Linked DNA regions of Homo sapiens. The protein of the gene in region 6 purifies or fractionates together with the protein of the main gene of each other region. This does not show direct contact. Each region holds a gene or a part of one and is shown on either strand. Other genes may lie near its edges. The genes, in order: NMNAT1, DDX31, YTHDC2, ZNF184, KNOP1, FGF13 and ZNF624.

The links.
Region 1: the proteins of FGF13 (region 6) and NMNAT1 purify together in Homo sapiens (affinity purification with mass spectrometry; one large-scale study listed by BioGRID and IntAct). This does not show direct contact.
Region 2: the proteins of FGF13 (region 6) and DDX31 purify together in Homo sapiens (affinity purification with mass spectrometry; one large-scale study listed by BioGRID and IntAct). This does not show direct contact.
Region 3: the proteins of FGF13 (region 6) and YTHDC2 purify together in Homo sapiens (affinity purification with mass spectrometry; one large-scale study listed by BioGRID and IntAct). This does not show direct contact.
Region 4: the proteins of FGF13 (region 6) and ZNF184 purify together in Homo sapiens (affinity purification with mass spectrometry; one large-scale study listed by BioGRID and IntAct). This does not show direct contact.
Region 5: the proteins of FGF13 (region 6) and KNOP1 purify together in Homo sapiens (affinity purification with mass spectrometry; one large-scale study listed by BioGRID and IntAct). This does not show direct contact.
Region 7: the proteins of FGF13 (region 6) and ZNF624 purify together in Homo sapiens (affinity purification with mass spectrometry; one large-scale study listed by BioGRID and IntAct). This does not show direct contact.

The regions. Positions count from the first base shown.
Region 1 is NC_000001.11:9,970,592-9,975,157, forward strand, and holds part of NMNAT1 (nicotinamide/nicotinic acid mononucleotide adenylyltransferase 1), read left to right. Parts: intron 1-1,426; 5' UTR 1,427-1,482; coding exon 1,483-1,597; intron 1,598-4,566.
Region 2 is NC_000009.12:132,594,356-132,597,664, reverse strand, and holds part of DDX31 (ATP-dependent DNA helicase DDX31), read left to right. Parts: intron 1-1,242; coding exon of another isoform or gene 1,243-1,297; exon of another isoform or gene 1,298-2,522; intron 2,523-2,552; coding exon 2,553-2,799; 3' UTR 2,800-3,309. UniProt on the Homo sapiens protein: May have DNA helicase activity and RNA helicase activity. Probably have ssDNA and RNA dependent ATPase activity. Plays a role in ribosome biogenesis and TP53/p53 regulation through its interaction with NPM1.
Region 3 is NC_000005.10:113,550,903-113,555,468, forward strand, and holds part of YTHDC2 (3'-5' RNA helicase YTHDC2), read left to right. Parts: intron 1-2,278; coding exon 2,279-2,457; intron 2,458-2,687; coding exon 2,688-2,784; intron 2,785-2,864; coding exon 2,865-2,952; intron 2,953-3,039; coding exon 3,040-3,120; exon of another isoform or gene 3,121-3,130; intron 3,131-4,566. UniProt on the Homo sapiens protein: 3'-5' RNA helicase that plays a key role in the male and female germline by promoting transition from mitotic to meiotic divisions in stem cells.
Region 4 is NC_000006.12:27,455,352-27,459,917, reverse strand, and holds part of ZNF184 (zinc finger protein 184), read left to right. Parts: intron 1-2,508; coding exon 2,509-2,635; intron 2,636-2,996; coding exon 2,997-3,092; intron 3,093-4,566. UniProt on the Homo sapiens protein: May be involved in transcriptional regulation.
Region 5 is NC_000016.10:19,711,728-19,716,244, reverse strand, and holds part of KNOP1 (lysine-rich nucleolar protein 1), read left to right. Parts: intron 1-1,207; coding exon of another isoform or gene 1,208-1,209; coding exon 1,210-2,127; intron 2,128-4,517.
Region 6 is NC_000023.11:138,613,951-138,618,507, reverse strand, and holds the end of FGF13 (fibroblast growth factor 13), read left to right. Parts: 3' UTR 1-3,781; downstream 3,782-4,557. UniProt on the Homo sapiens protein: Microtubule-binding protein which directly binds tubulin and is involved in both polymerization and stabilization of microtubules.
Region 7 is NC_000017.11:16,650,660-16,655,973, forward strand, and holds the start of ZNF624 (zinc finger protein 624), read right to left. Parts: upstream 3,192-5,314; 5' UTR 3,105-3,191; exon of another isoform or gene 2,909-3,104; intron 1-2,908. UniProt on the Homo sapiens protein: May be involved in transcriptional regulation.

The DNA.
Region 1 (4,566 bases), on a different chromosome or scaffold from region 6:
GGCAGAAGAATGGTGTGAACCTGGGAGGCGGAGCTTGCAGTGAGCTGAGATCGCGCCAATGCACTCCAGCCTGGGCAACAGAGTGAGACTCCCGTCTCAAAAAAAAAAAAAAGAAATTTTAATAAAAACCTAAAATTGGATGCCTTATGTTACTTCATTAGGGTTATGGAAGGATCAGTGGAATAACTGATATGAAAAAGAGGTTTGTAAATTATATTCTATTATTTAGTGGAAAGTTATGATGTTACTATCATGTTGACTAAAAGGCAAAAATGCTGTATTTGGTAGATGATAATATTGTTGTATTAATTAACTGTGGCCACAATAGTGCAATCACAAAACTTGAGTGACATATGATAATGAACACTAATTTTTTGTTTTTGAGACTAGGGTCAGCTTGTTGGCTTGACGATCTGAGCCAGGTTTGGTTGATCTCACTTGGGTTTGCTTATGTGTCTGAGCAGATGGACTGTAGTTGGCTGGTCGGGGATGGCTATGTTCCCCACATGTGGGGTGGTTGTCTATCAGTGGGAGCATCGGTGCTCTCCCACATGTTCTGGCATCCTCCACACTAACACTTGTGCCACATTCTTTTGCCCAAAGCAAGTCAAAAAATGTGGAGAAGTCACTTCCATCTCTTCATGGTAGAAGTTGCAGATTCACATTGAAAAGGAGGGATGGAGATGTGGAAACATTTTTAGAGTTAGCATAATGATTGAAGCCAATTTTTTTTTTCTTTTTGAGATGGAGTCTCTCTCTGTCGCCAGGCTGGAGTGCAGTGGCACAGTCTCGGCTCACTGCAACCTCCGCCTCCTGGGTTCAAGTGATTCTCCTGCCTCAGCCTCCCAAGTAGCTGGGATTACAGGTGCCTGTCACCACACCCAGCTAATTTTTGTATTTTTTGTAAAGACGAGGTTTTACCATGTTGGCCAGGATGGTCTTGATCTCTTGACCTCATGATCCACCCGCCCCAGCCTCCCAAAGTGCTGGGATTACATGTGTGAGCCACCACGCCCAGCCAAAGCCAAATACTTTTAATCCATCTATTGGGAATGAGAATGTGGAAGGACATCAAAAGACCTATAACTGGGCTGGGCGTGGTGACTCATGCTTGTAATCCCAGCACTTTGAGAGACTGAGGTGGAAGGGTTGCTTGAGACCAGTAGTCTGAGAGCAGCCTGGGCAACATAGCAAGACCCCCATCTCTACAAAAATTAGTCTTTAAAATAATTAGCCAGCCTATTGGTATGTGCCTGTGTTCCCAGCTACTTGAGAGGCTGAGGTGGGAGCATCACTTGAGCCCAGAAGTTTGAGGGTGCAGTCAGCTGTGGTTGCATCACTACACTCTAGCCAGGGTGGCAGAGCAAGACCTTATCTTAGGGAAAAAAAAATGCATAACTGAATTTATTTTCTTTTTCCTTTGTAGACAACAAGGGAGGTGTCACAGTTTTCCATTTAGATCAACAACTTCAAGTTCTTACCATGGAAAATTCCGAGAAGACTGAAGTGGTTCTCCTTGCTTGTGGTTCATTCAATCCCATCACCAACATGCACCTCAGGTTGTTTGAGCTGGCCAAGGACTACATGAATGGAACAGGTAGGAGCAGTAACCAAAAGTGGCTTAAGACTAGAGAACCAGCCGGGTGCAGTGGCTCACACCTGCAATCCCAGCATTTTGGGAGGCTGAGACGGGCAGATCACAAGGTCAAGAGATCGAGACCATCCTAGCCAACATGGTAAAACCCTGTCTCTACTAAAAAATACGAAAATTCACTGTGCCTGTAGTCCTAGCTACTCGGGAGGCTGAGGCAGTAGAATCGCTTGAACCCGGGAGGCGGAGGTTGCAGTGAGCTGAGATTGCTGCACTGCACTCCAGCCTGGAGACAGAGCAAGACACCATCTCAAAAAAAAAAAAAAATACTAGAGAACCGGCATGACTGGGTCTGTTTCAGAATACACATTTCATTGACTGGGCACAAACATGCTGTCCTGCTCCCTTGTACAGTGAATTCTTAGCCAAAAAAGAGGGTGAAGTATGAGGGAAGAATTGAGCATCTGGCTATGGCCTGTAGAATAGAAAATACAGCCAGGTACAGTGGCTCACACCTGTAATCCCAGTGCTTTGGGAGGCCGAGGTGGGAGGATCACTTGAGGCCAGGAGTTTGAGACCAACCTGGGAAACAGAGAGAGACCTCATCTCTACAAAAAAAATTGTAAACATTAGCCAGGTATGGTGGCATGTGCCTGTGGTCCCAGCTACTCAGGAGACTGAAGTAGGAGGATTGCTTGAGCCCGGGAGGTCTAGGCTACCGTGAGCCATGATTGCACCTTTGCCCACCAGCCTGGACATCAGAGCAAGACCCTGACCACCCCTCCCCAAAAAAAGGAATTTGATTCTGTCATGCCTGTGCTTAATCTTCTTTAGGAGTTTCCCATTACTTAAGGCAAAAAGCGAAAGCTTGTACTTTAGCATACATAAAACCTCTAGGATCAGGCACAGCTTTTTAAAAGTTTTCTTTTTTCTTTCTTTCTTTCTTTTTTTTGAGATGGACTTCACTCTTGTTGCCCAGGCTGGAGTGCAGTGGCGCGATCTCGGCTCACTGCAACCTCCACCTCCTGGGTTCAAGCAATTCTCCTGCCTCACCCTCCTGAGTAGCTGGGATTACAGGAATGTGCCACCACGCCCGGCTAATTTTTTATATTTTTAGTAGCGACGGGGTTTCTCCATGTTGGTCAGGCTGGTCTCAAACTCCCAACCTCAGGCTTCCCAAAGTGCTGGGATCACAGGCATGAGCTACCATACCCAGCTAAAAGTTTTCATAAACAATGCATGAGGCTGGGCGTGGTGGCTTACTCCTGGAATCCCAGCACTTTGGGAGGCCAAGGCAGGCAGATCACAAGGTCAGGAGATTGAGACCATCCTGGCTAACACGGTGAAACCCCATCTCTACTAAAAATACAAAAAAATTAGCCGGGCATGGTGGCGGGTGCCTGTAGTCCCAGCTACTTGGGAGGCTGAGGCAGGAGGATGGCGTGAACCTGGGAGGCGGAGCTTGCAGTGAGCCAAGATGTCGCCACTGCACTCCAGCCTGGGTGACAGAGCGAGACTCCATCTCAAAAAAAAAAAAAAAAAAAAAAAAATGCATGAATAGGCTGGGCGTGGTGGCACATACCTGTAATCCCAGCACTTCGAGAGGCAGAAGGGGCAGATTACCTGAGGTCAGGAGTTTGAGATCAGCCTGGCCAATGTGGCGAAACCTTGACTCTACAGAGTCTCGCTCTGTCGCCCAGGCTGGAGTGCAGTGGCACAGTCTTGGCTCACTGCAACCTCCACCTCCTGGATTCAAGCGATTCTTTTGCCTCAGCCTCCCCTGTAACTGGGATTACAGGCACACAGCACCATGCCCGGCCCATTTTTGTATTTTTAGTAGAAATGGGGTTTCACCATGTTGACCAGGCTGCTCTTGAACTCCTGTTCTCAAGTGATCCTCCCACGTCGGCCTCCCAAAGTGCTGGAATTACAGGCATGAGCCACCATAACATAGCATAACCATAACAGTTTCATGTGTATCCTTCCACTCTTCTTTGTATGAATTTATATGCAAACATTTGTGTGTATACACAGATTTTTTTTTTTTTTTGTGGAAATGGTTCTCACTCTGTCACCCTGGCTGGGCAGGCTGGAGTACAGTGGCATGATCACAGCTCACTGCAGCCTTTACCTCCCGGACTCAAGTGAGCTGCCTGCCTCAGGCTCCTGAGTAGCTGTGACTACAGGCATGCCACCACATCTGGCTAATTTTTTTTTTTTTTTGGAGACAGAGTCTTGCTCTGTCGCTCAGGCTGGAGTGCAGTGGCATGATCTCAGCTCACTGCAAACTCCGCCTCCCAGGCTCACACCATTCTCCTGCCTCAGCCTCCGGAGTAGCTGGGATTACAGGTGCCCGCCACCATGCCTGGCTAATTTTTTGTATTTTTAGTAGAGACAGGGTTTCACCGTGTTAGCCAGGATGGTCTTGATCTCCTGACCTCGTGATCCACCCGCCTCGAACTCCCAAAGTGCTGGGATTACAGGAGTGAGCCACCGCGCCTGGCCTAATTTTTTAATTTTTTGTAGAAACTGGGTCCCACTGTTTTGCCCATGTTGGTGTTGAGCTCCTGGGCTCAAGTGATTCTCCTGCCTTGGTCTCCCAAAACACTGGGATAACAGGTGTGAGCCACCACACCTGGCCTCGATTTTTTTGTTACATAAATGATCATATAATATGCTGATAGGTAGATGGATGGATGGATGCTAAAGCTCACTATTTGCCTATGACATTGAGAAATGGGCTTTTGCATACATCTAGGTGGACAATACAAATTAAGGCTTTTTACAAAGTAATTTGGCAATATCAATAGAAATTTAACTGTATAGGGGAATGAGGTGAAGTACAGAGTGTCAGTTGGGGAAGATGAGAAAATTCTGGAGATAGATAGGAGCGATGGTTGCACAACAGCATGTTTGCAGTTAATATCATAGAACTGTACGCTTGGGTATATTTTACCATAATTTCAGTCAGTTAA
Region 2 (3,309 bases), on a different chromosome or scaffold from region 6:
CCTGGAAGATGCTCCCGCAGCCCGCACCGCTTCTGTAGGCAATTAGTGTATCAGTCACTCCAGTAAGATGCTGGTTCTTTATTTTGCCTTAGCGGTAGCAGGAGCCATCGTTGAAGTGCTGGAGCTTATGCTGGGGAGCATATTTTGACTGAAATTTTGCATATTTTGAAACTTAGGTTGTTACATTTAAAATTATACACATTGTGAACCTGGCTTCAAACAAGAGGGAAGAAAAAGCATTCCTTCCTGTCAGACCCTTTTCACTCTGTCACATAACCTGACTAAAAATAAACTACAGGCACAGGAACTGGCAGCCTTCAGTTTGGAACAAGTTGAGTGCGCCCAACCGCAGGCCCTGTCTCCCGCCACTTCCCAACCACAGGTCAGCCCCCAGCAGCTTGGACCTCCTCCAGGGACACTGGTGCACATGGTCCGCACTGGGCGGGTGACCCATGATGAGACTCGCTGCTCTTAGGGAAGTGGTGGATGCTCTCAGAAGAGCCCCAGCCCAGCTGTCAGGGGCCGTAGCACCAGTCCTGGCTCCTGTGTGGCTCTGGGGGAGGTGCGTGGCATCTCCAGACCTCAGTTTCCTAATGTTTAACTGTGACTGCGATCCACATGCCAACCACCAGCTACCCCCTTATATGTCTTGATTTTTTCTAATCCTCACACCTGAGTGCCATTCTCAGTGAGGAAACTGAGGCACAGAGCCTGAGTCACTCATTCTGTGTCCTCAGCTGATGAGTGATAGTCAAGTTCCAACCCTGGCTTCTCCCTCCTCCACCCTGCAGCTCTGCTGTCTCCCCTCACCACTCCCTACTCACTTGCCTGGCTCCTGCCCCACTGTCCTGCTGAAGTAGTCCTTAGGAGACCACAGAGGACCCCTCCCATCACATCTCACCATTTTCCACCCTTGGTCCAGCTGAGTCCTGCCCCCGCTGACCCGGCAAATCGTTCTCTGCCCTGAGTTTGCCTCTTGGCTTCTCCACTTACCAGCCATGTGGTCCTGGGGCAGGTTACCCTCCTTGAGTCTTTGTGTCCTTGTCTGTAAATGAGGATAATAACCGTACCCACCTTGTTGAGCGAGGATTGTAAGAGATTGTGTATGTGAATCATTTCCCACAGACCCCAGGAAGTCTTCCCTGTATACTTCTAATCTTCTCACTACATCCTGCCCTGATGTGCTCACCCCATAAACTCCTGGCCTTTAAATGTTATCTGTTCATTGTCCCCTTGTTTCAGATCTTCTTTTCCTGCAGAGGTTGGCTTGAATGTGTCTTCCTGTATGTTGCAATAGAAAACACCATTGTATGACTGTCACCCTGTCCTCTGGAGTGTGATTAGAAACAGGTATTATTGCTTTAGCTCGTTTATAATGGGTTTCTACAAGCTTTCACAGTCAGGTTAACAACACACTATTAGTCTTATTTCTAATTCTTGGGTTTTAAAGGCATTGTTACATTTATTTTGACCACAGTTTCAGTTCAGTTTATTCTCTGATTACAGCAAAGAAAATGCTCTAAATGTAGTAGCAGAACGTAACATATGTCTTTGTGAGAACTCCATGACACTATAGTATCCTAAGACATTGCCGTTTTGGTATTGAAGGAGTTGCCAGCAAGGAAGTGTGGATTTATTGGTAATTGTTTTATTGTTGTTGCTTTGGTTAAAATCCTGTCTTAAGAAACATTGTTTTACTCTTCAGTTTTCATAATCATTCTTCTTATGTATGATTGAACATCTACAAATTTCCTCCTCTGATCTTCCGATCAAATGGTAAAATTGCCATCTTTTCAGAACAGTTATCAGGATTCGACATCGGAAATTGATTTTCAACCTTTGGCATTTTCTGAGTGACTTAGGGTAGGGAGAGACCTCCCTCTAACACCCGGGTTTGTGTGGGCTGCAGAAAGCTGCTGGTCTAATCCTAGATGCAGACATTGACCAGGCTGTGCCCTGGGTTTGGGTTTTGTAGGGTCAGAAATATGTTTAAGAGTTTTTTCCGTTCATAAAGAGCTATCTGGCTGTCATCCCAGCCTTCACTGTGGAACCCTGGAGGGCTGCGTGGAACTTGCTGGACTCTGCTCCCGCAGGGCTGAGTCCTGAAGCCCTCAGGAGCCCATGAGGAGGCCAGTTGCTTTAAGCTGCTTAGGGGTTACTGGGAAGCTGCCGTGAGCTTTCACTGCTTCATGTTGTTGAGTGTGACGGTGGGTTTTTCCCTGTCCTTTGGCAAACCGCTGTATCATACACCTCATTTGCCATCAGAGCATGAGGGTGTATAGTTCTTTTTTTCCCCATGAAAACAACACAGAACAAAGCCTCACTTTTAAAAATGCCATGATATTTTGCCGCTGTTATGAAAATCTGTCAGCGCCGTATCTAATCTTCTGGTGCATCGAATATCAAAACAAGTACTATTGAAGGGATTGTACTTCTGTTAATACAAAAATGTCAGCTTCACAGTCTCAGAACCAGCTGCTATCAGCCTCTTTCCAAATGGGAAAGAAAAATAATAAAGTTTCTTTTCCCTCTCTGCTGTTACTGTTCTTCAGGCCTGACCTTCATAAGAAGACCCAGAGTAAACACAGCCTCGCTGAAATCCTACGTTCGGAATACTCAAGCGGCATGGAGGCCGACATCGCCAAGGTCAAAAAGCAAAACGCACCTGGAGAGCCTGGTGGCCGGCCCCTGCAGCACAGTCTGCAGCCGACACCCTGCTTTGGCCGTGGGAAAACATTAAAATGGAGAAAAACCCAAAAAGGTGTACAGCGGGACAGCAAGACTTCCCAGAAAGTTTAAAATCTCTCTGGGTCTTCGAGTGGAACCTGGAAGCCCCGGGTGGCAGTGGATTGATGTCCAGTTCTTGTCAGAGGAGGCTTGTGAAAAATAACTGCGCCTTTGCCTGAATACCACGTCCCCAAGAATCAGAGGGGCCACAGCCCTTCTCCTCCATGGGAGGCCCTGGAGCCTGATAGAAATCAGTGGTGTGGGGCACTGTAGAGACTAGCCAGCTCCCGACGGAAGGGGTCTGTGTCTTGTATTGATCCCATCAGTGCCCGGCACTCCCTTCACCCAGGTGCTGACGTGCCGGGGTTGAGCTGGCACCCCGGGATGTGATGTAAGAACGCCCTGCGCGTCAGCCTGGAACGGGCTTGATTGCTGCCCTTAACTGTGTTCTGAAGTTTCACAGCTTGGCTTCAGCCTATCAGCGCATACATTGGCATGAATTTTGTGAATTAGGGTGTTAAAAACTGGAATTGAATTTGTACAAAAAGAGAATATATTTATCACTAATTATTTTCTTAATGT
Region 3 (4,566 bases), on a different chromosome or scaffold from region 6:
TATTTAAAGAAAATTTTGAATATATGTTTTATAATACATTGAAAGCTTCTGTTTTCAACCTTTAGAGACTCAAAAAAGAAAACAATGGAGCCTGAAGTTAAAATATATTAAAATATCTGTTATTCAAGAGCATATAAAATGTTTTATTTGACCTGGGTTTTTGTACTTAATTTTATAGATGTAAAATTGGAAATGTAGTCTCAGACATTTGAAATTAGTTGTGACATTGAGTCTCAAAATTCTTGGTAGGTTTAAATGCTATTTCTGATATGGTAGGTTTAGTTGTCATTTCAATAGTAGCACCCAGAACTTGCAGTCCTTTTATTGTTAACACTTTGAATGTTCCAGACATTCTTATGGTGTTAAGTAAAGCTCACTAGATACTGCAGGTTACCAGGTAAAGCGTTTATCTGGATAATATTTTAATTATCCTGGCTAACTGGGCTTTCTTTTTATTTGATAGATCATATTATCAATTATAAATTTCAGGTATTTAAAATTGAATATATTATTATGTTTACTGGATTATTGATAATTTATATCCAAAAGTTATAGCTTTAAACAGAATATAATGTCTTCTTCATTTATGTGTTAAAAATTAAAAAACAATAAACTTACAGTGTTTTAAAGTAGATCTTAAAATTTATAAGAGCTGAGAACACATGGACACAGGGAGGGGAACATCACACACCAGGGCCTCTTGAGGGGTTCCGGGATAGGGGAGGGATAGCATTAGGAGAAATACCTAATGTAAATGAAGGGTTGATGGGTGCAGCAAACTACCATGGCACGTGTATACCTATGTAACAAACCTGCATGTTGTGCACATGTATCCCAGAACTTAAAGTATAATAAAACATTTACAAGAGCCAATTATTAAGTTGTAGAAGTTTAATATTTTTCCCATTGAAAATAGTCTTACGTTATTTTTCTGCTAAATTCTTTAAGAGAGATTGGATTTATTTGAACTTCCTAGAAATTCTGTTGATAATTGCTAGTGATAGCAGTAGTTTACATTTTTACATATAAGATGAAGAAGCAAGGCATTTATTTCAGTAATTTATGTTGATTCTTGCTTTTGGAAAATAGCATAATCAACTTGCTTTTAGTATAGAATTTTCTAATTAACAGTCATGTTAAGTTGGTACCTACTGAGTTTTTTAAAAATGTGAACTATACATCAGAATATTGTTTATAGTAGTAAACAATTAGATACAACCTATTAAGAAAATATAAATGATAGCTGAAAGTTTGTGGTTTTTAACAGTTTTATTGAGATATAATTAATATACCATATAATTCACCCATTTAGGTGACCAATTCAATGGTTTTTCATATGTTCACAGACTTATGCAATCATCACCACAATCAATTTTAGAACAGTTTCATCACCACAAAAAGAAACTTGTACCCATTAGGTGTCTCTCCCTATTCCGCCCCAACTCTCCTAGGCCTCCTCCAGCTTTAGACCAACCACTAATCTACTTCCAGTTTCTATAGATTTGTCTATTTTGGACATTTTATATAAATGAAATCATGTGATATGTGGTTTTTGTGATTGGCTTTTTTCAGTTAGCATAAAATATCCATGTTGTAGCACTATTTTTATGACTAATACATATTCTATGGATATACCAAGGTTTGTTTGTATATTTGTCAATTGATGAACACTTAGGTTGTTTCCACTTTCTGACTATGAATAATACTGGTATGAATATTTGTGTACAGATTTTTATGTGGATATATTTTTTTCATTTCTCTTATATATACACCTAGGAGTGGAATTGCTGGGGCATATGGTAACTCTATGTTTAACCTTTTGAAGAACTGCCACATTGTTTTCCAAAGCAGCTTTACCATTTTACATTTCCACCAGCAATGCATGAGGGTTTAAATTTCTCCACACCCTCTCCAACACTTGTTATTGTCTGTCTTTTTGATTGTAGTCATCCTAGTTGGTGTGAAGTGGTATTTCATTGTGGTTTTGATTTGCATTTCCCTGATAGCTAATGATGTTGAACATCTTTTCATGTGCTTATAGGCCATTTGTATATTTACTTTGGAGAAATGCCTTCAGATTGTGCTTTTCTAAAAGCATTCATTGCCAAATTTTACTTTGAATAATGTGCTTGAAATCAAAACATGAATCATATTATAGCTAGGACATTAAGTGTCACTTACCTTACCTTCCTTAGGGAATATTGGAAATTTGAAGGACATAAGGATTACTTTTGTTAATGGAAATTGACTTTGTCTTTTTTTTTTTTTTTTTTTTCAGTGCTACACTGGAATTTGGAAATCTAGATGAAAGTTCTCTGGTTCAAACAAATGGAAGTGACCTCAGTGCTGAAGACAGAGAGCTCCTGAAAGCTTATCATCATAGTTTCGATGATGAAAAAGTAGACTTGGATTTGATCATGCATCTTCTATACAATATCTGCCATAGTTGTGATGCTGGTAAATACGTGTTGTCTAAAAGAACTGGAGCAAAATATATACTTTAAGAATTAATATTTTAAGTGTACAAATTTTTATATAATTGCACTGATAGTAGTAAGTGAATAATCTCCTGTCATCTTATGATAGTTTACCAGTACTTGAAAACATGTGATACAGATTTTTATAATTCTGTTGATTGCCTCTGATTCACAATGAGATTTAATATTAAAAAGTCATTCTTCTCCAAGGTGCAGTACTAATTTTTCTGCCTGGATATGACGAAATTGTTGGACTGAGAGATCGCATCCTGTTTGATGACAAGCGGTTTGCTGACAGTACACATAGGTAAGGGCTAAAGCCTTATATCTGTTGCTTAAAATAACGGACAGGTCTTATAGTATGTTTTCTCTTTCAATTGTCTGCAGATACCAAGTCTTTATGCTTCATTCAAATATGCAAACATCCGATCAAAAGAAAGTATTAAAAAACCCACCTGCAGGTGTTCGAAAAATAGTAAGCTTCATAAAATCTTCTTTTTAACACTTTCATTAGTTATTTTTTCTGTTTTTTTATTAACTTTAAAGTAATATCTTGTTGCAGATTCTTTCCACCAATATTGCTGAAACCAGCATCACAGTCAATGATGTTGTCTTTGTTATTGATTCTGGTAAGGTGAAAGAGGTATGTATGGGTAAGTTGTAGTTTTACTTAAATGAAGAAGATTAAGTTCTACTTCAACAAATACTTTTATTTATTATTTAGTTGTTTTTCTTTTAATTTTACCTCTACTCAAGACAGCTTGGACCAGCGCATGCTTTTATAAGCAGAATTTACGAAAAATGTCTGGTTCTAGATAAATTTAACATACTAAATATTGATTTTACTAAATATTCTGCCTTAAATAATTCAGTATATAGAATCAATTTTTGTTATTTTAACAAAGTATACAAAAATGTAGCTCTGCTCACCAAATACTAGGAAGAAAGTAAAGGGTTTGGTTAGTTATAGTGAAAATGTTGTCACACAGTATGGGAATTTGATTACATATTTTTTATGTTTTCCTTCTACATATGCACATGGATTATGTCTTTGTTCACTGTTAAATCTTTAGTGCCTCACCTATAGCAGGTGTTCAAAAGATACTCAGTTCAAGAGAACCATGCTGAAAGAAAGCAAAGAAATAGATAAACCATGGGATAACCAGCAGCTAAATTGGACTTAACACTTGCTTTTGTAAAAAAAAAGTTTCATTGGAACTCAGCTAGTCTACTTTTACCTTTTCTCTATGGTTGCTGCCTTCATACTGCAAGGCAGATTGGAGTATTTGTAACAGAGACCCTCTCAAAGCCTAAAATATTTACTATTTGAAAGTCCTTTTCAAAAACAGCCAACCTTTGTTATAAAAAAAAAAAAGCCATTTATTTCCTTTTAGTACTGGAATGCCCAGCAGTTGTCCATGTTCCTAACTTTTGGTAGATAACATTCGCTGAAAAAATGAAAGTGGTAAAGATAATTGATTTTTCAAGGGAAGACATATTACTCATGTGTGGAAAGCAAATTATATCTATTTAGTGGATAAAAATGATCGTTTTTAATGTGAAAAAAGTAATTGCCTTATGTTTTCAATGTAATTTTAAGGAATATTTTATAGAAAATAAAATTTTATTATAAAAATTGGCCATATGCTTTATAATTGAATAAAGGTGGGATAAATTTTATTTTTATATAATAGTACATTAATGAGTATTATCACTAAAAATCTTAATGGTGAGCCAATGAAAATTCAGATTTTATTGCCCTAAAATTACCTAAAGTGGATAAAGTGGGTTTTGAATATTTTAGAAAGTTCCTTTAGGTGTTACTTATTTATTAAGTAACTGAAATTTAAAACATGGGTAGTGTCAAAAGTTATTTAACATACAAAATTGACAAATGTAATGTCATATTAAAAACCAAATAAGCTGTTTTCTAAAAATTTTATAAACTATTATGCAAACATTTTTATTTGCTCTATGCAGTTATTTTATGAAAGGGAAAGTATAAGTACCGAGTGACTGAAATACATGTTCTAGTTAGGCTTGTATTTCTTTAAAATATTTCTCTACAATAAATTTTCACTGTAGGTTA
Region 4 (4,566 bases), on a different chromosome or scaffold from region 6:
GTGTTGAGATTGCAGGTGTGAGCCACCATGCCTGTCCTCTTGTGTACATATTTTCTAATGAGTACGTATAGATATACATCATTTGATAACTATCTATATAAAGTGTTTTAGTATGGGTGTACTATATATTTTTTAACCACTATCCTATTAATGGGCATGTAAGTTTGATTTTTTTTCCTTCCACACAAATGATGTTGAAATGGCAATTGTACATATGTCTTTGTACCTAGAAGTGTTTCTGAATAATAAATTCCTAGAAGTAGGAAGACCAGATCAAATGGTGTATCCATTAAAGTTTTGATAGATCTTGTCAGATTGCCCCCCAGATAGATTGCATTTGGGTTCTGTTTCCACCATAGGACACATGAGCACTTTAGCAGTGTTACCCAGTCTGATATTTTACTGTTTAACTATATTTTTAGGGGAGGGGAGCATCTTTTCATGGTTTCACATTTTCCTCGGTGACTTGCCTATTTGGGTTGTTGGCCTTTATTGTTGCTATTGTTGTGGGTAGTTGATCTTTTTTTTTTCCCTTAATTTTTAGTTGACATGTAATAATTGTACATATCCATGGGATACAGAGTGATATTTTGGTACGTGAATACAATGTGTAATGATAAAATCAGGATAATTAGCATATCCATCACCTTGAACATTTATCACTTCTTTGTGTTGTGAATATTCCGAATCCTCTCTTCTACTTTCTTGTAATTATACACTAAATTATTGTTAACCATATTCACGCTATAGTGCTATAGACACTGGAACTTATTCCTTCCATCTACCTGTAACTTTGTAACTGTTAGCCAGTCTTTCCCTAGCCTTCCCTCCTCTACCCTTCCCAGCCTCTAGTAAGCACAATTCTACTCTCTATGAGCTCGTTTTGTTTTTGTTTGCTCCTACATGTGAATGAGAACATGCGATATTTATCTTTCTGTGCCTGGCATATTTCACTTAACATAATGTCCTGCAGGTACATCCATGTTACCACTAATGACAAGATTTTATTCTTTTTTAAAATGGCTGAATGGTATTCCCTTGTGTATATATACCACATTTTCTTTATCCATTCGTCTGTTGATGGACATTTAGGTTGATTCTATATCTTAGCTGTTGTCAGTAAAGCCATAGCAAACATGGGGATGCATGTGTCTCTTTGGTATACTGATTTCCTTCACTTTGGATAAATACCCATTAGCGGGATTGCTGGATCATATGGTAGTTCCATATTTAGTTTTTTTGAGACAGTGCCAAACTGTTTTCCATAATGGTTGTACTAATTTACATTCCCACCAGTGTTGTATCCTTGCCAGCATTTGTTATTTTTTTTTTTGTCTTTTTGACTAACTGGGGTGAGATGATATCTTATTATGGTTTTGATTTGCATTTAGTGATATTGAGCATTTTTTCATATATTTGGGTGTTTATATGTCTTCTTTTGAGAAATGCCTATTCAGATACTTCACCCACTTTTTAATGGTATTATTTATTTTTTTGCTGTTGATTTGAGTATATTCTGGATATTAGTCCCTTGTGAGATGAATAGTTTGCAAATATTTTTGCCCCTTCTGCAGGTTGTCTTGAACTCTGTAGATTGTTTTTTTTTTTTTTTTTTTTTTTTTACTGTGCAGAAGCTTTTTAAATTGCCTTTTGTTTATGATGTCTTATAGATGTTTTACATTGTTATGTGGTTATATCTATCGATCTCTCTCTCCATCATGTAAATTTTGCCTTCCAGATTTCAAGCTTATACAAATATTTTCCTGTTTTTTATTCTATTTTATTTTGACTTTTTCTTTACGATTTCATCTTTAGGTTGGCAGGAATTTTTGTGTGTGTTGTGAAGTAAGGATCTCACCTTAATTTTTTTTTCATAGACAGTCGTTTGTTATGGCATGATTTAGTGACTAATCCATCTTAACTAATTTCACTTTTAACTTACTTTTAATTTAACTAACTTTTAACCAATTTGAAAGCTGCTTAATGCCTTTTAACTCTTATAAATATGAATCTGTTTCTGGATTTTCTATTTTATTTCATTTTGTTTTATTCCAGACTAGGCCATTTTTAAATTACTTTATCTTTTGAAATGTATTAGGGCAAGTCTTTCCACCTCTCTTTTTCAAAAAACCTTTGGGTGCTCTTGCACATTGTAGGTAGTAAAAAATATTGATGATAATAGTTAAACCATTAATACTTAGCGGACCTTGGAACACAGAGATGATGATGGTAATGATGACGATGAAGGACAACAACAATGGCCATATTGACTGAGCACTTATTATATGCCAGACGTTAAATTAAGCATTTCACATGGAATGTTTTATTTAATTCTCACAATAACCCAATGGATGAGGCACTGTTTTTACATTTATTTCATAAAGGAGAAAATGTCAAGATTATTTTGCAGACATCCTATAGACTGCCTTACTTCTGTCAGTATTGCTAACTTTACCCCTTTCCTAAGTAAATGCTTATGGCTAAGCAGAAATATGTTTGGTATTTCAGGAAGCGGTGACTTTCAAGGATGTGATAGTGGACTTTACCCAGGAAGAATGGAAACAGCTGGACCCTGGCCAGAGAGATTTGTTCAGGGATGTGACATTGGAAAATTATACACACCTGGTCTCTATAGGTAAGGATAATTTCTCTGAGTTAATATCAAGGGGTGTGCAGGAGGAGGGTTCTCTCTTGTGCTCAGGGGAGTTTGCCTTTAAGTTTAGTAACCAACCATTTCTAAATTTCTAGTTTTTGAAAAGGTTTCTACCATCCTAGCAAGCAGAGGGACAAAATAATAATTTTCCTGAACCCCGATCAGTTCCCAAATTATACTCCCACCATGTCTGGGAACTGGTAACACTAAAGCTTGATATGCTATCCACTCCCATCAGGTTTTTACTACATATCATTTCTTCTAAAGACAAAGTGGTGATTGAATTCTGATATGGTACTTTCCCCTTACTGCAGGTTTCTTTCTTTTTTTCCCTAATGAACAGGACTCCAAGTTTCTAAACCTGATGTGATTTCCCAGTTAGAGCAAGGGACAGAGCCATGGATCATGGAGCCAAGCATTCCAGTAGGTACCTGTGCAGGTAAGTCATGGATGCCAGCAGATGAATATCATTAACTCCGACTGTCAGCCTGATAAGAGAGGATTTTATGTCTGAAGTGTAGATGTACTTTCTTCCCTTTAAAGTATTTCCTGTGGAGAAATGGGAAAACATCTGTTTTCTGGACTTTCTTATGCTTTGTTATGTCACTAATTGTTGCAATATATATTCTATGTTATGCCCCTTTTTGAGGAGATGTCCTTCCTACCTTTCTATGAAATCCACCTCTCGAACTGGACTCTGAATTACATCTCTTTCTACTTCCTTTAGGACCATGATCTCATAATTATCACCGTACTTTTCAGTCCTTACAATTTTTTATTTTGGATCTACGGGCTCCATTCCCAGTACTTTTAAATAGAAATACATAACCTATATTTCCAAATAGATTTACTCCACAATATGAATCTTTATGGCCACCATTCAGTTTATCTTTTCTTTCCCAAGCAAACTCAACAAAAATGAATTCCATAACTGCAGGCTTCGTTTCTTTATCACCTAATTCTTACCTAGTAACATGTATAGCTTCTGATTTTTTTTTTCTTTTTTTGAAACAAAGTCTCATTCTGTTGCCCAGGCTGTAGTGCAGTGGCGTAATCTTGGCTCACTGCAGCTTCTGCTTCCCAGGCTTGAGTAATCCTCCCACCTCAGTCTCCCGAGTAGCTGGAACTACAGGTGCACGCCACCATGCCTGGCTAATTTTTGTATTTTTAGTGGAGACACGGTTTCGCCATGTTGCCCAGGCTGGTCTTGAACTCCTGGGCTCAAGTGATCTACCCGCCTCAGCGTCTCAAAGTGCTGCAATTACAGGTGTGAGCCACTGCACCTAGCTAGCTTCTGATTTTATCACTTCATCATACAGTTTTTGAAATTATGAATAACTTTCTTCTAAATCATCAGTTTCCAAACTGCATGAAGTAACCTAAGGATCTGACCCTGGAAAAACAAACAAACCTAGTCATTCTAGGTAAGCGATACGTCTCTAGAGTTAATGGGATGTAGGTGAGGTTCTTCTTTACGGGGGAAAAATGTATGCCATGTTCAAACTTTAGCAAGTTTCTAACTGGAGTACCACTCAGAGATTTTTTTTTTAAATAGGCAGTTAGGTGTTATGAATGCTCAACAGGGTTGCATAGAATGTAACATCTCCCAACCCCCGCCCTGCCTCCAACAATGAATACTTTTTTTTCATATCACATCTGTAAAATCTTTCTCTTAGAATGGTTTCATGGAACATACTTTAGAAAGCTTAATTAAAAAAAAGAAGAAGAACTTTAATAACTGGGGCTTATGGTTAGTTAACTTTTGGAAAAAGCAAGTTGTCAAGTTTTATTACAAATTAAAAATGAAATTTTACTTGACCAGATAGAAAACCATTTTAAACCATTAAAATGTACATTGAAAAACTTAGGCTTTTCAAAAACTACTTTTTACCAGAAAGATTTATTTAGGCAAA
Region 5 (4,517 bases), on a different chromosome or scaffold from region 6:
GTGAGTATGTATTGAGCACCTGCTATGTGCCAGGCACTGAGCAGGACACTGGAAATAAACCAGGAAACAGGGCAGACAGCAATGAATGAGTATAGTTATTCCCTTGACTCTCCAGGTGCGCCTGGAGTGGGTTATGAATGAACTTGACCTGTAGCTCAGGCCTGGCTCTTTGAAGCTGCTAAGAGAGAGCCAGCTCCAGTGTGGACCCTCTGAGTTCCGAAGCTGAGGAGGGCTGCAGGATGGAGAAGTTTTTCCTTTCCCTCCCATGATCCTAACTTGCTATGAAATATTTTGGGATATTTTGCTTCTAGATTCTGGGAATGTCTAGTGCAGGAACTTGGCTGGGGACTGGAGTGAGAGCAGTGGTCCAGCTGGACACTGATGGGTATTGAGGACCCCAGCCCATTCTCACAGGTGCTTCCACGATATCTGTCCAAGACAAGCTGGGTGCCCTCAGTACTGTGCATCATTGTGACTCATTCAGTGTTGGCAATCAACTTCAAATTTTAAAAACAGTGGAACTAGGCCAGGCAAGGTGGCTCATGCGTGTAATCCCAGCACTTTGGGAGGCTGAGGCGGGCGGATCACTTGAGGTCAGGAGTTTGAGACTAGCCTGGCCAACATGGAGAAACCCCGTCCCTCCTAAAAAAGAAAAAAAAAATTAGCTGGGCATGATCACGGGTGCCTGTTATCCCAGCTACTCAGGGGAGGCTGAGGCAGGAGAATCACTTGAACCCAGGAGACGGAGGTTGCAGTGGGCCGAGATCACGCCACTGCATTCCAGCTTGGGTGACAGAGCAAGACTCTGTCTCAAAAAAAAAAAAAAAAAAAGAGAAAAAGAAAAAGGGAATTAACAGTGTACCAAGCCCTTTCCATGGGTTATCTCATTTACTCCCTCCAACACCCTTTTGAGGAGGGAGGTGTTATATTCCCCCATTTTCCAGATGGAGAAATTGAGGCTCAGGGAGGTTAGCTGATTTACTTAAGGTGAGAGAGGCATTTAGGTTTGAACCTAGGGCTGTGTGGATTTAAAATTTACGCTGTTTCTGTAGTATTTCTTTTTTTGCTTTAAAGGAATCATGTCCATTTTCCCTGTCCCACAACGCTTTGACCACCCACTCAAAGAAACATGGCTCTTGGCAATGCTTAGTAGAATTGAACACAGGATGGCTTGGTATGGGATAACTTGTACCATTTGTTTTTTCAGGAATGATCACCAAGACACACAAAGTAGACCTTGGGCTCCCAGAGAAGAAAAAGAAGAAGAAAGTGGTCAAAGAACCAGAGACTCGATACTCAGTTTTAAACAATGATGATTACTTTGCTGATGTTTCTCCTTTAAGAGCTACATCCCCCTCTAAGAGTGTGGCCCATGGGCAGGCACCTGAGATGCCTCTAGTGAAGAAAAAGAAGAAGAAAAAGAAGGGTGTCAGCACCCTTTGCGAGGAGCATGTAGAACCTGAGACCACGCTGCCTGCTAGACGGACAGAGAAGTCACCCAGCCTCAGGAAGCAGGTGTTTGGCCACTTGGAGTTCCTCAGTGGGGAAAAGAAAAATAAGAAGTCACCTCTAGCCATGTCCCATGCCTCTGGGGTGAAAACCTCCCCAGACCCTAGACAGGGTGAGGAGGAAACCAGAGTTGGCAAGAAGCTCAAAAAACACAAGAAGGAAAAAAAGGGGGCCCAGGACCCCACAGCCTTCTCGGTCCAGGACCCTTGGTTCTGTGAGGCCAGGGAGGCCAGGGATGTTGGGGACACTTGCTCAGTGGGGAAGAAGGATGAGGAACAGGCAGCCTTGGGGCAGAAACGGAAGCGGAAGAGCCCCAGAGAACACAATGGGAAGGTGAAGAAGAAAAAAAAAATCCACCAGGAGGGAGATGCCCTCCCAGGCCACTCCAAGCCCTCCAGGTCCATGGAGAGCAGCCCTAGGAAAGGAAGTAAAAAGAAGCCAGTCAAAGTTGAGGCTCCGGAATACATCCCCATAAGTGATGACCCTAAGGCCTCCGCAAAGAAAAAGATGAAGTCCAAAAAGAAGGTAGAGCAGCCAGTCATCGAGGAGCCAGCTCTGAAAAGGAAGAAAAAGAAGAAGAGGAAAGAGAGTGGGGTAGCAGGAGACCCTTGGAAGGAGGTAGTTTTTCCTTCAGAAATGGACTTTGCCGTGGGAGAATTAAGGGTGGGGTTTGGGAGGGGTGTGTAGGCGTGTGTGCATGTTTGTACATGCACGAGTACTCATGCTTTTAGCTAAAACCCTGGTTAAATTAATTTCAGCCAGAATAGGGAGTTTATTGATATATGCAATTGGAAAGGTTATGGTTAACTAGCTTCAGGTATGGCTGGATCTAGGGGCTCATGCAGTATCATCGATAATTGCAGGTATCCTTTGCTACTGAAACCACCCAAGTTTTCCCTGTCTGCCGTTGGGGTCTGAATTAACTGGGATCAATTTTTCAGATGAATCCCTTGCTTTCTGAACTCTTGCCACTTGCTATCCAAAACTCAGGAACCAAGTAACATGAGATAACGTAGTGCCTGTAGCTATCTGAGTATCATCACAGCTCAGTATACACAATTTATACATCAAATAGATTTGGGTAGCCGGAGATGCCTGTATGAGATTTCCTCAGCTCTGGGCTTTGTATTTTTCTATCTTGGTTTATGGCCCATCCTCCTCCTCCACCTCCATCACATTGTGACCTGATGGTCCCGGCAGCTCTAGGCTTTCATCCCAGCAGTTCAGCCACCCCCAAAGGAAGAAGGGTGGCCCCTGTAAATCTATGACAGAAGTCTCAGGGCCACTATCGCAGGCCTCAGTTGGGTCAATCTATCCAGAAGCTCTAATCTAAAACCAAAGGTGGCCGGGTGCGGTGGCTCATGCTTGTAATCCCAGCACTTTGGGAGACCAAGGCAGGCAGATCACTTGAGGCCAGGAGTTCGAGACCAGCCTGGCCAACATGGTGAAACCCCATCTCTACTAAAAATACAGAAACTAGCTGGGCATGATGGCAGGCGCCTGTATTCCCAGCTACTCGTGAGGCTGAGGCACGAGAATTGCTTAAACCTGGGAGGTGGAGGTTGCAGTGGGCCGACATGCCACTGCACTCCAGCCTGGGTGACAGAGCGGGACTGTCTCAAAAAAAAAAAACTTGAGGTGAAGGACAGGGCGGGTATCAGTCCTAACTAAACCACACCGTCTGAGATGCGGGGAGGCAGTTTCTGAGAGGAAAACTGGAGTTCTGTTACCAGGAGGGAAGGAGTGGATGATGGCTTGGTGAAAACCACAGAGACCTGCTGTCTTCAGCCTGCCAGGCTGCCTGGAGTGGGAGAGGGAGGCCTGAGGTGAGCCGGAGGGCTGGTGGCTCCCCAGACCCACAGCCTTTCCCAGCTGAGCCCCTTCCAGGGCCAGGCCCCCATTCCTGTCCTCAGGTGTGTGCACGGACGTGTGGGCCGAAACGATGGTGTGTGTCTTGTTTCAGGGTGTGTGTCCTGCTCCAGACAGTGTCCGGCCCTTCCGTGTGGCCGGTGGCTGACATTTCTTGAGTGTTTACTGTATGCCCAGACTGCTTTGTATCAACCCATCTCATCCTCCTACCTGTCTGGTGAGGTAGCTGCTGTGGGCACCCCCATTTGACAGATCAGGAAACTGAGGCTCCAGAGACTTAATACCTTGTCTAAGGCCACACAGCTGGCAAGAGGTGGAGTTGGGATTCAAACTCAGCTAGTCTGGCTTCTGAAGTTGGCATTTATCCCTTCTCAGAAACCATCTATGTAACCTCTTGTAGAAGCCGGTATTAGTAGAGCCCCAGAAATGACCATCTTTCCATTAGCATAAACCCCAGATTCTCTTCCGAGCTCTGCACCAATCTGCTGGGTGACCTTGGACCACCCATTGCTCGGTTAGAGGGGGAGGGGAGTGGAGGGGTGGCCTCCATATCAAAGGCCTCCAGGTGTTAGCTTTGGTTGCTAGGATTTTCCCAGCTTTGCCCTAGTCCATTAGCCTTGGTTTTACCAGCATCTTCCTTTATTCAGAAACTTGGAGTTGGGAGGAACCCTAGAGGCTTGGGCCCAGCCGCCATCAGACTCTAGAATCCCTTCTCCCAGGAGCTCAGTGAAAGGGAGTTCCCTCTGCTTAACATCTGTGGGGGGACTCTACCTCCCACAGCAGCCCACCCAGTCCAGCAAATGCACATGTGTTGCAGGCCTGGATGAGTGATGGGAATGGAGAGGGCTTCCAGGGTCATCACACACGTGACGCTAGGTGCCAGGCACAGCACACTTCTCAAGTGAGGACGCATGAAATGTCAGCATTTGTCGTTACTGAAGAACCCCAAGAAAGTGGCCGGCCTGAGGTCTCGCTGTTGGAGGGTGTCTTCAGGGCCAAGGCGGGTGGGAGAGCATGGTGCATGTTAGTGTGGTCCTTGGCCTCTGTCCTGTAGTTTGGTGTCACCGTAGGAGGTAGGTGACGTGTGTAGTGGGAAAGGTCGGACACCAAGCCCTGGGTCAGGAGATGTGGGTTAGAAT
Region 6 (4,557 bases):
TGTCCTTTTGTTGAATTTCCAGTCTCTGGTTGCTGTGAGCCCCTACCGCTGTTCCCTGCTCACAGCCTCTCAGTCACTCAGACATGATGATCCCCTCAGTATTCTGAGTGGGGATAGAAAGAAGTAGGCCTCTTGGTCAGTGTCCCACGTGGCTAGGAAAGCCAGGCATTCATTTACTACACTCTCCCTTTCACCCAATGGAGAAATCATGAGTCAAAGTTGTATCTCTTGGTGTTGAGTTCTGCTAGCTTGAGAGACGGTTGACATAAGTAGTGAAACTATTTTCTGGTTCTTTTCAATGTGCCTATTCTCGTAATTGTTTTGCTCCATCTGTGAGCTGGACTACCAGACTCCCACAAAGGTACTCTCATACTTGAGTGGTTGTCAAAATTGTAGATAGTGGGGAAATGACAGGAGAAAATTCCTGTTCTGCCATCTTGCTGACATCACCCCAATATCTAAAATGCATATTTTAATTATTTTTTTCCTTGAATAAAGTTTATTTTGGAATTGTTGAGTTTTACAAAATAATTTAAAATATTCTCTCTCTCTCTCTCTCTCTCTGGGGTTGAGGTCTCACTCTGTCACCCAGGATGGATTACAGTGGCACAATCGCAGCTCACTGCAGCCTCGAATTTCTTGGGTCAAGTGATCCTCCCACTTCAGCCTCCCAAGTAGCTGGGACTACAAGGCGTGTGCCACCATGCCCAGCTAATATTTTTACATTTTTTGTAGAGATGGGGTCTCACTATGTTGCCCAGGTGGGTCTTGAACTCCTGGCATCATGTGGTCCTCCCACCTCCACCTCCCAAGTCCTGAGGATACCAATTGTGAGTCACTGTGCCCAGCTATCCCCTTCTCACTCTCTTTTTCTCTCACACACATGTGTGCATGCACAGACACACACACCTCATGTTCATTCTCTTTACCATGATGATCCTTGGTTCTTTTACACAGCTTCTTTCAGTTTACCTTACAATTTAGCTCAACACAAATTTTAAAAAACTTATAGTTACAATTTAATTTGGCTTGGTCCACACCTCTAACAAATTTGATACAATCTCCAACTTACGGTTGCAAGTTAGTTGATTATATTCACTTCCAAGTATTTCCCCCAACATTTCATTATGAAAATATATCCATCAATTAATGCTCTTATCTATAAAATAATTATTTTTTTGCATTTCAAAATAAGTTACAGACATCAATGCACTTCATCTTTAAACCCTTTATCATGCATATCAGGAAGTAGAGTTTAATATTTCTATATTTCTTGGGGGAGAAATGGAGCTAAAATTATATACTGTATCATATACAAACCTGTTAGGTATATCAATTCATGTGTATTGACAAATGCGTGCACCATGTAACAGAAACTCCTTTCAAGATATAGAATATTCCTATCACTACAAATATTAATCACCAAAACAATGGGGAGAATGTCTCTAGGGCATGTCAGAGACCTTCACTGCAGCCTCTCCCATTATAGGCCAGGAGGCCTTGAAGGAAAAAAATGGTTTAGTGGGCCAGGCCTCAGGCACCCCCCCTTGCTCTTTGCAGCCTTGAAACATGGTACCCTGCGTCCCCAGCTGCTTCAGCTTCAGCTGTGGCTAAAAGGGGCCAACATACAGCTCAGGCCATTGTTTCAGAGAGTGCAATCCCCAAGCTTTGGCAGCTTACACATGGTGTTGGGCTTGCAGGAGCACAGAAGTCAAGAATTGAGGTTTGGGAACCTCTGCCTAGATTTCAGAGGATGTATGGAAATGCCTGGATGTCCAGACAGAAGTCTGCTGCAGGGGTAGAGCTCTCAGGGAGAACCTCTGCTAGGGCAGTGCAGAAGGGAAATGTGGGGTTGGAGCTCCCCCACAGAGTCTTCACTGGGGCACTGTATAGTGGAGCTCTGAGAAGAGGGCCATAGTCCTCCAGACCCCAGAATGGTAGATCCACCAATAGCTTGCACCATGCACCTGGAAAAGCCACTGGCACTCAACACCAGCCCATGAAAAGAGCTGTGAGGGTGGCTGCATCCTGCAAAGCCACAGGGGAAGAGCTGCCCAAGGCTGTGGGAGCCCACCCCTTGCATCATTGTGACCTGGATAGATGTGAGACATGGAGCCTAAGGAGATCATTTTGGAACTTTAAGCTTTAACGACTGCCCTATTGGATTTTGGACTTGCATGGGCCTATAGCCCCTTTGTTTTGGCCAACTTCTCCCATTTGGAATGGGTATTTTTACTCAATTCCTGTACCCCCATTGTATCTTGGAAATAACTAACTTGCTTTAGATTTTACAGGCTTATAGGTGGAAGGGACTTGCTTTGTCTCAGATGAGACTTTGGACTTGGACTTCTGGGTTAATGTTTGAATGAGTTAATACTTTGGGGGACTATTGGAAGGGCATGATTGTGTTTTGAAATGTGAGAACATGAGATTTGGGAGGAACTAGGGTCAGAATGATATGGTTTGGTTTTGTGTTCCCACCCAAATCTCTCCTTGAATTGTAATAATCCCCATGTGTCAGGGGTGGGACCAGGTGGAGGACTGAATCATGGGGGTGGTTTCCCTCATGCTATTCTCATGATAGTGATTTATAACAGATCCAATGGTTTTATAAGCATCTGGCATTTCCCCTGCTGGCACTCATTCTCTCTCCTGCCACCCTGTGAAGAGGGGCCTTCCACCATGATTGTAAGTCTCCTGAGGCCTCCGAAGCCATGCGGAACTGTGAGTCAGTTAAAACTCTTTCCTTTATAAATTACCTAGTCTTGGGTATTTCTTTATGGAAGCATGAGAATGAACTAATGCACAGGGTAAAAATTTAAAAACAAACATACAAATGCAAGTAAACAAGCCAATATTTCAACTGTTCCCATTGCATTATCCTTATTCTTTATCTATGGTACCAGAAAATAATACATCTGAAACAATTTTTTTTTCCTGCCATGATGTACACTCAAGTGGGTCCACTGGGGTTTCTTTCAGTTTCCCAAATACTAGATATGACTCTTCCCTATACCTTATCTTCATATGAAGAAAGCTATGAGAATATATTAATAACTGAATATAGTAACACTACTATAGGAATAAGCATGTGTATATTCCAACTGATCTTTTAAAACTTTTATTTTGAAATATTTATAGATTCAAAGGAAGATGCAAAGAGTATAGGGAAGTGCTATATGCCCTTTATCTAGTTCCTCTAGTGGTATCAACTTACATAACTGCAGTATCATATATAAACCAAGAAATTGGCATCTGTATAATCCACAGACATTACTCAGACTTCTCTAGTTTTACATACACTAATTTGTATGTGTGTGTGTGTGTGCGTGCACGTTTATGTGTGTAGGTCTATGCAATTTTACCACATGTGTATATTTGGGTAACCACTACAATGATCAAGATATGGAACTGTTCCGTCACCACTAAGATCCCTTGTGCTATTCCTTTATAAACATCTCCCTGTCATCCTTTTTCACCCATAAAAGCTAGTAAACACTAATCTGTTCTTCATCCTTATAATTTTATTATTTCAGAATTGTTATATAAATGTCATCATACAGTATATAACACATAGAGATTGGCTTTTGTCACTCAGCACAATTCCCTTGAGATGCATCCAAACTGTTGTGTATATCAGTAATGCAATATGTTTAATTTCTGTGTAGTATTCCATGGTAGAGATGTGCCATAGTTTAACTATTCACCTGTTGAACAACATTTGTGTTCTTTCTACTTTTGGGCTATTACAAATAAAGTTGCTATGAACATTCATGTATAAGATTTTGTGTGATCATTGGCTTTCATTGCTCTAAGACAAATTAATAAGCATTTCTGAGTTATATAATAATCACATATTCAGTTCTGTAATATATTGCCAAACTTTTTTAAAGTAGCTATATTTTTCATGTGTTTATTTTCGATACATATATCCTATTTTACAAAATGATTGTTGATGAATTTTCTCTATATTCTATTGGATGTTTTAAGAAATTTTCATTGAGTTTTCAGAGTTTGCTATATAGTCCAGTTATGAATCCTTTGTCAGATGTGTAGTTTGCATATTTTCTTCCTGTGGTTAATTACTAAAATTGCAGTGTAAGAACTTCTGAAAACCCTTTCATCCATAAAAGCAATAAGAACACAGGTGAAAATTCTAAATTAACTTGTTCATAACTCTGGAAATTAACTAAAAACTTGTAAGAATTTGAGAAGTCTTTATTTTAGAAAATTTGCTGGATATTGGCAAGAACAGTGAAATCTGTGGCATTTTAACTTACCATATTTCCATATTCTTTTACTCAGCTCTGCAATATTCTCAAAAGCCAAGTGCCCTGCAATTATAGTGGCATAAAAACAGCAGTCTGGCAGCCATCAAAAGTGGAAGAATGCCATTAAGGGTGTCTGCCAGCTCTATCCCTACAGAATGTCATCAGGGACCTGTTCTCTAAATATCCCAACCTGTAGAACTTGTCTTTGTTTCACCTGATTCAACCTCATTCAGTGTGAACAGGCTTTTGTTGAAATCAATCCGTGGCAGTTGTTCCACACTGCAGC
Region 7 (5,314 bases), on a different chromosome or scaffold from region 6:
TCAAACAGTACAGATTGTCAATATAAATTCTTCTAGGATGGTAATACTAGCCTCATGAATCTTTATTCATGAGGGCAGTGACATAATAAGTATTAAGTTTTTGTACAAAAAGTGTTATAAGCAATTATATGGTCCTGCAAGTAGGGCCTTTGTTATGCTTAAACATGTGGAATCTGCTCCTTCCCTGAATGTGCACCTTGCTTCTCATAACGTTCAGTAGCTTTGCTCAATAAACATAGCAGAACTTAATCTAACCTTACAGTGTCTAACAATCAGAAGCTCATCTGAAAAGATACTTGAAGTACTTAACCATTATTCTCTGAAAAACAAGAATATATAAAGCAAGGTTATCAAGAATGCAAAGAATATTAGAGATATAAAAATTAACTAGATATGGGTATACTGAAACATATACTGTCAGATTAATGTATTAACTCAAGGAGGAGACCAGGGTTAGTTAAATCAAGAAAATATGTAAATATCTTGGCTGGGCATGGTGGCTCATACCTGTAATCCCAGCACTTTGGGAGGCCGAGGCGGGCAGAGCACCTGAGGTCAGGAGTTTGAGACCAGCCTGGCTGACACGGTGAAACCCTGACTCTACTAAAAAATACAAAATGATCAGCCAGGTGTGGTGGTGCACGCCTGTAGTCCCAGCTACTCGGGAGGCTGAGGCACTAGAATTGCTTGAACTTGGGAGGTGGAGGTTGCAGTGAGCAGAGATTGTGTCACTGCACTCCTGCCTGGGCGACACAGCGAGACTCCATCTCAAAAAAAAAAAAAAAAAGTGAGTATCTTAAAAATGTAGAGTGACCTGTTTCATGACACTGGGGCTTTCCTAGGCACAATGAAAAGGTTTTGGTGGAAGAGAAACAATGAGAAGTTGAGGGAGGAAAGCGGTACAGTGTGGAGATAAAAGAGGTAAAGAAAGAATAGTCTGAGGGGATTCCTGTATTGAAGCCTCAAGGTAACCAGTAAGTGGTTTTGCCTTATGCCAGTGTTTCTCTAGATTTTTCTGTCATAGAGCCTTTTGCAAATCTAATGAAAATTATGACTCCTCTCCTGTTTTCTAATGAAAACGCCACATGTATAACTAGAGGGGTCTCAAATCTGAGAATGCAAAAAACTCACTGGATATGCTTATTAAAAAGGAAATTATTTGGCCCCATCCAAGATCAAAATCAGGATCTCTAGATGTGAGGCACAGAAATATACAGCTTGAACAAGTACACCTTAAGAAATATTTAGTTTAATATAATGTTAACATGTTAATTATATAATGTTAAATTATATAATGTTTTAGTTTTAGTGTAATATTTTAAGAAATATTGCCTGTTACACAATAGGGATTCTGAAGGGTGAAGGAGTGGGAGGGGGGTGGAGAATAAGGAATTACTTAATGGGTATAATGTACGTTATTCTAGGGACAGATACCCTGAAAGCCCTGATCTCACCACTACACAATCTATGCATACCAGTAAATCTTAATTTTTGGGGGGGTACGGACCCATCTGAGAATCTGACCTTGTCCACAAAATAATGCACATGCATATATGATGTTGCATATTACTTCAGAGAGCTTGAAAACTGACTCTCCCTCCCAAGCCCATACACTGACCCCCAAGTTTTACAAGGTTGCAAAGAAAAAAAATGAGCCAAGAATATTGCCCCATCCCGCAACCCCCGAACACTAAAGCAGACCTACAAAGAGCAACATAAGGCATTTTCAATTCCGAAGGTCTAGAGTAATGGTTTTCTGCATCTTTAACATTTATCAAGAGTGAGCTGAGTCATCATTTTTAAAATATTTGTAAATATTAATAAACTCTTTGGCAATACTTTATGTAGATTATGTAGATTATGCTCGTAACATATGTTTAACAACCAAACTACAATAAATCCCTTGTTTTATTTTATAATTAGAATAAACAATATTTAACATTTAATATATTCAGCTTGATCTCAATTGTGCAAATGTAATGCATAGAAAAAAAGACTGAGTAACCCAAAACTCTACTGAGACCTCTGAGACCTGGGGCTGTGATGTTTACCCTTCTTTCTGCTTTTCTGTACTCTCCAAGCAGACAAGAAGAAGTATCTACCTATACATAGGAGTGTGGAATAGGAATAAAATCCCAGAGTGGCTGGCCACATCCCCAGGTTCTAACCCTGCTTTGGCTACCGTAAAACTGTGACCACAGGCAAGTCACTTGAGCACAACGAATCAGCTATTAGTACATGACAGTAGCCACCTTATATGTTTCTACTGTCCCCTTTGTCATTATGCAGAAGATATCTAGGCCACTATTCCCCAGTTATAATTTCCCTATTTACAAGCTCTGTCTTTCCAACTATTGCAAACGTATCCAGAGACTTAAGGAGAAACTTTACTTGTTTTGCTTCCTTGGCCAGTGCAGTTATTTAGAAATAATGAAGGGTCCATGTTTTTGCTGAGAATCTCAGCGCCATGTACCAGTCCAGCATTTCCCAACCAATGCAATAATACCATTGTCATGTCAGGGAGTGACAAGTGATTAAAAGGTGATTACAGTATTTGAAATGTGACATTTCAGGAAAAGCTGCCTCGGTTACTGAGTAGCGCAGGTCCCCCGATGTGGAACCTAGTTCCATCCCTGCCAGTTCAGAAGCCAGAGCGGATATGCTCCTGCCAACCTCGCCTTCTTTCCCTAACTGCTCTCCTCTACCCACTTCGGGTATGCCCTCCTCAGGGCCTGCAAGGCGCGGGGCTGGGAAGACCGGGAAAGTCGGGTCAGGGGCCCGCCCGCCCTACTCGACTCCCTGCGCCCTGCGCCCGGCTCTTTTTAACCCCAGCGCCGCCAGGCCCGCAGGGAGGGGGTTCCCGGGTTTGGACCCGGACTAGGAGGCCGCATAGGGCACGCGGCCCTACCTGTGAGGGAGGCCAGCTGGAGACTGAACCCACACTCGGGAAGGAGGCCCAGCCCCAATCGCCTCTCAGGAGTGGGCGGGTCCGCTCAGGGACAGGGGCTCTAGAGGGAACGGCCACGCCCCGGACGCCGCCGGGAGCCAAGCGCCAAGGGAGGGGCGGCGGGCAACCGAGGCCAGGCGCCCGGGACAACGAGTACCTGGCGGCCGAACTGAGGACAACTGAGGGAACTCGCAGAGCAGGGCGGGAACGCTTCCAGCAATGGCGGCGGCTCGGCGGTGCCGGCCTCCAGGCAGGGCATTGCGCCTGCGCAGCCGGAGCGTCGGAACTACAGTGCCCAGAATCCTCAGCGCCTGAGCCCCCCGCCCCTTTTGTCTGCGTTAGTGAAGGAATTGGCTCTTCGAGGGTGAGAAAAAATTCCAATTGGATACACTTCTGTTGAGAAGCCTTGACTATGTGTCAAAAGCAATAGCACTAGAGATACAAATAATGACACAACCCTTGTCTTGGAACATTTAGGTGCGACTAAAGAAAGCCGTCGAGAGAACAGATAGATGTGATCCAGACAAATATGTGAACAAGTGCTTGGAAACACATATTTCTGAACAATTCCCTTTATGACAATTCCCTCAGAGTTGGAAGAGACAACAATTGATGACTATAATGCCAATTAAGTAGAATGGATATGAATGTCTGAAAATAAGCTGGAAATTTTAAGGCCAAAATTCTTCGAAATACAAAGAAAAAACCTTTCTGAAGACAAATAGCTGTAGAAGTTCTCCTCAATGCATACAAATGATAATTCTTAAAACACAATGACTGAAAGTATTTATTTGCAACAAATTTATTTGACCACTTATTCAAGGGCTGCTCGTCCAAGAGCTATATTAAGGTCTATTTACTTTATCCCTACCAAAGGCGGTATTTTTTGAGGATAGAAACTACATCTCATGGAGTTTATCACTCAGAGTGCCTACTTAGGAGACTGCTTGCATACTGAATGAAACGAAGGAAGAATGAATGAATAATTTGGGACCCCACCTCCCAACACACTTCCACATATCGAAATGCACACGGAATGAGGTACATCTTCTAAGGAGAGTGGCATTGAAGAGTAATCAAAACAACAGGATATTCACAGGAGGACTGGAATAAAACGAAATTTCCAGTGAAAAAGATTACTCAAAATATTTATTCAATACACTCTGAAATTAGAAACTAAGCAAATGTCTTTTGGAGATCCCAGTTCCCTCACATTCCCCACAGATGAAGATGAGCCAAACAGAAGTCCAAAACTTAAACATTACAAAACAAATAATAAAATAAGACACTGTGACTGAAAATCAGCACAAACAATAAACGGCAGAAATATATCCCCCAAAACTTCAGAGGCAGAGCTCATTTGATTAAAAATTTAAAATTATTACATTTAAAATGTTTAAGGACATGATAGATGGAATTAAAAACATTATCAACAAACAACAGAATGTAAAATAAGCCACCAGGAAAGTTTAGAGAAACATACACATTTCGTTAAACTATTAAAAAAAAATGTTTAACACAATATTTAGGGTAGATTATTACTTCTACAGGGATAAAGTCCAGGAAAGACAGACACACAGGTGACTTCAAAGGTATTGGTAGTGTTTTATTTCTTAATTTTGGTAGGAGTACACTGTTCAATTTGTAGTGATATTTGTTATAGGCAATTTTGTGTGCATTTTATATTTAGTAATTTTTAAACTCTTAAAGAACTCTTCTGTGAAGGAAGAAACTAATGCTTTTTGGCTTCAAATAATAAACCAATGGTTAAAAGTTACTTGAAGATAGATTTTGATTCAGATTGTATAACTTTATGCTAACAACGAACAGCTTTAGAAAATAGAGTAGGCTACCTTGTGCAATAATGAATTTGAATTCTTTGGAGAAGTTCAGGCAGAGATTAGATGAATCCTTGCTTAGAATTTTTAAATGTCCTCTTGGGAATTTGATTGCATGACCTGCAAGCTCTCTTCCACATAAGCATTTTGTGTTTACATGAATATTCCTTTCATTACATTTATTTTTCCTCCCATTGGGCCAGGTAATGAATAGATTTGTATCATCATAATGTGTTATGGAATACTTAGGAATCAGTGACATTAAGGGATGACTTCGTCTGGGAAGAGTGGAACTTAATGGATTCCTCAAAAGGACTCTGCACAAGGGTGTGATATTGGGAAACTACAGGAACCTGGTCTCTCTGGGTAAGAAGAGTTTTGTTGTGACTCGCTATTTTTCTGTTGGACCAAATGGACCTTAGGATTCAGGGATTTATGATATCTTATGAACCCTTATGGAGTAGTTCTATCTCCATTTCCAAGTAAAAACTCTACTCTTTGTAAAGGGAAAAATTTATATTTTCATCAG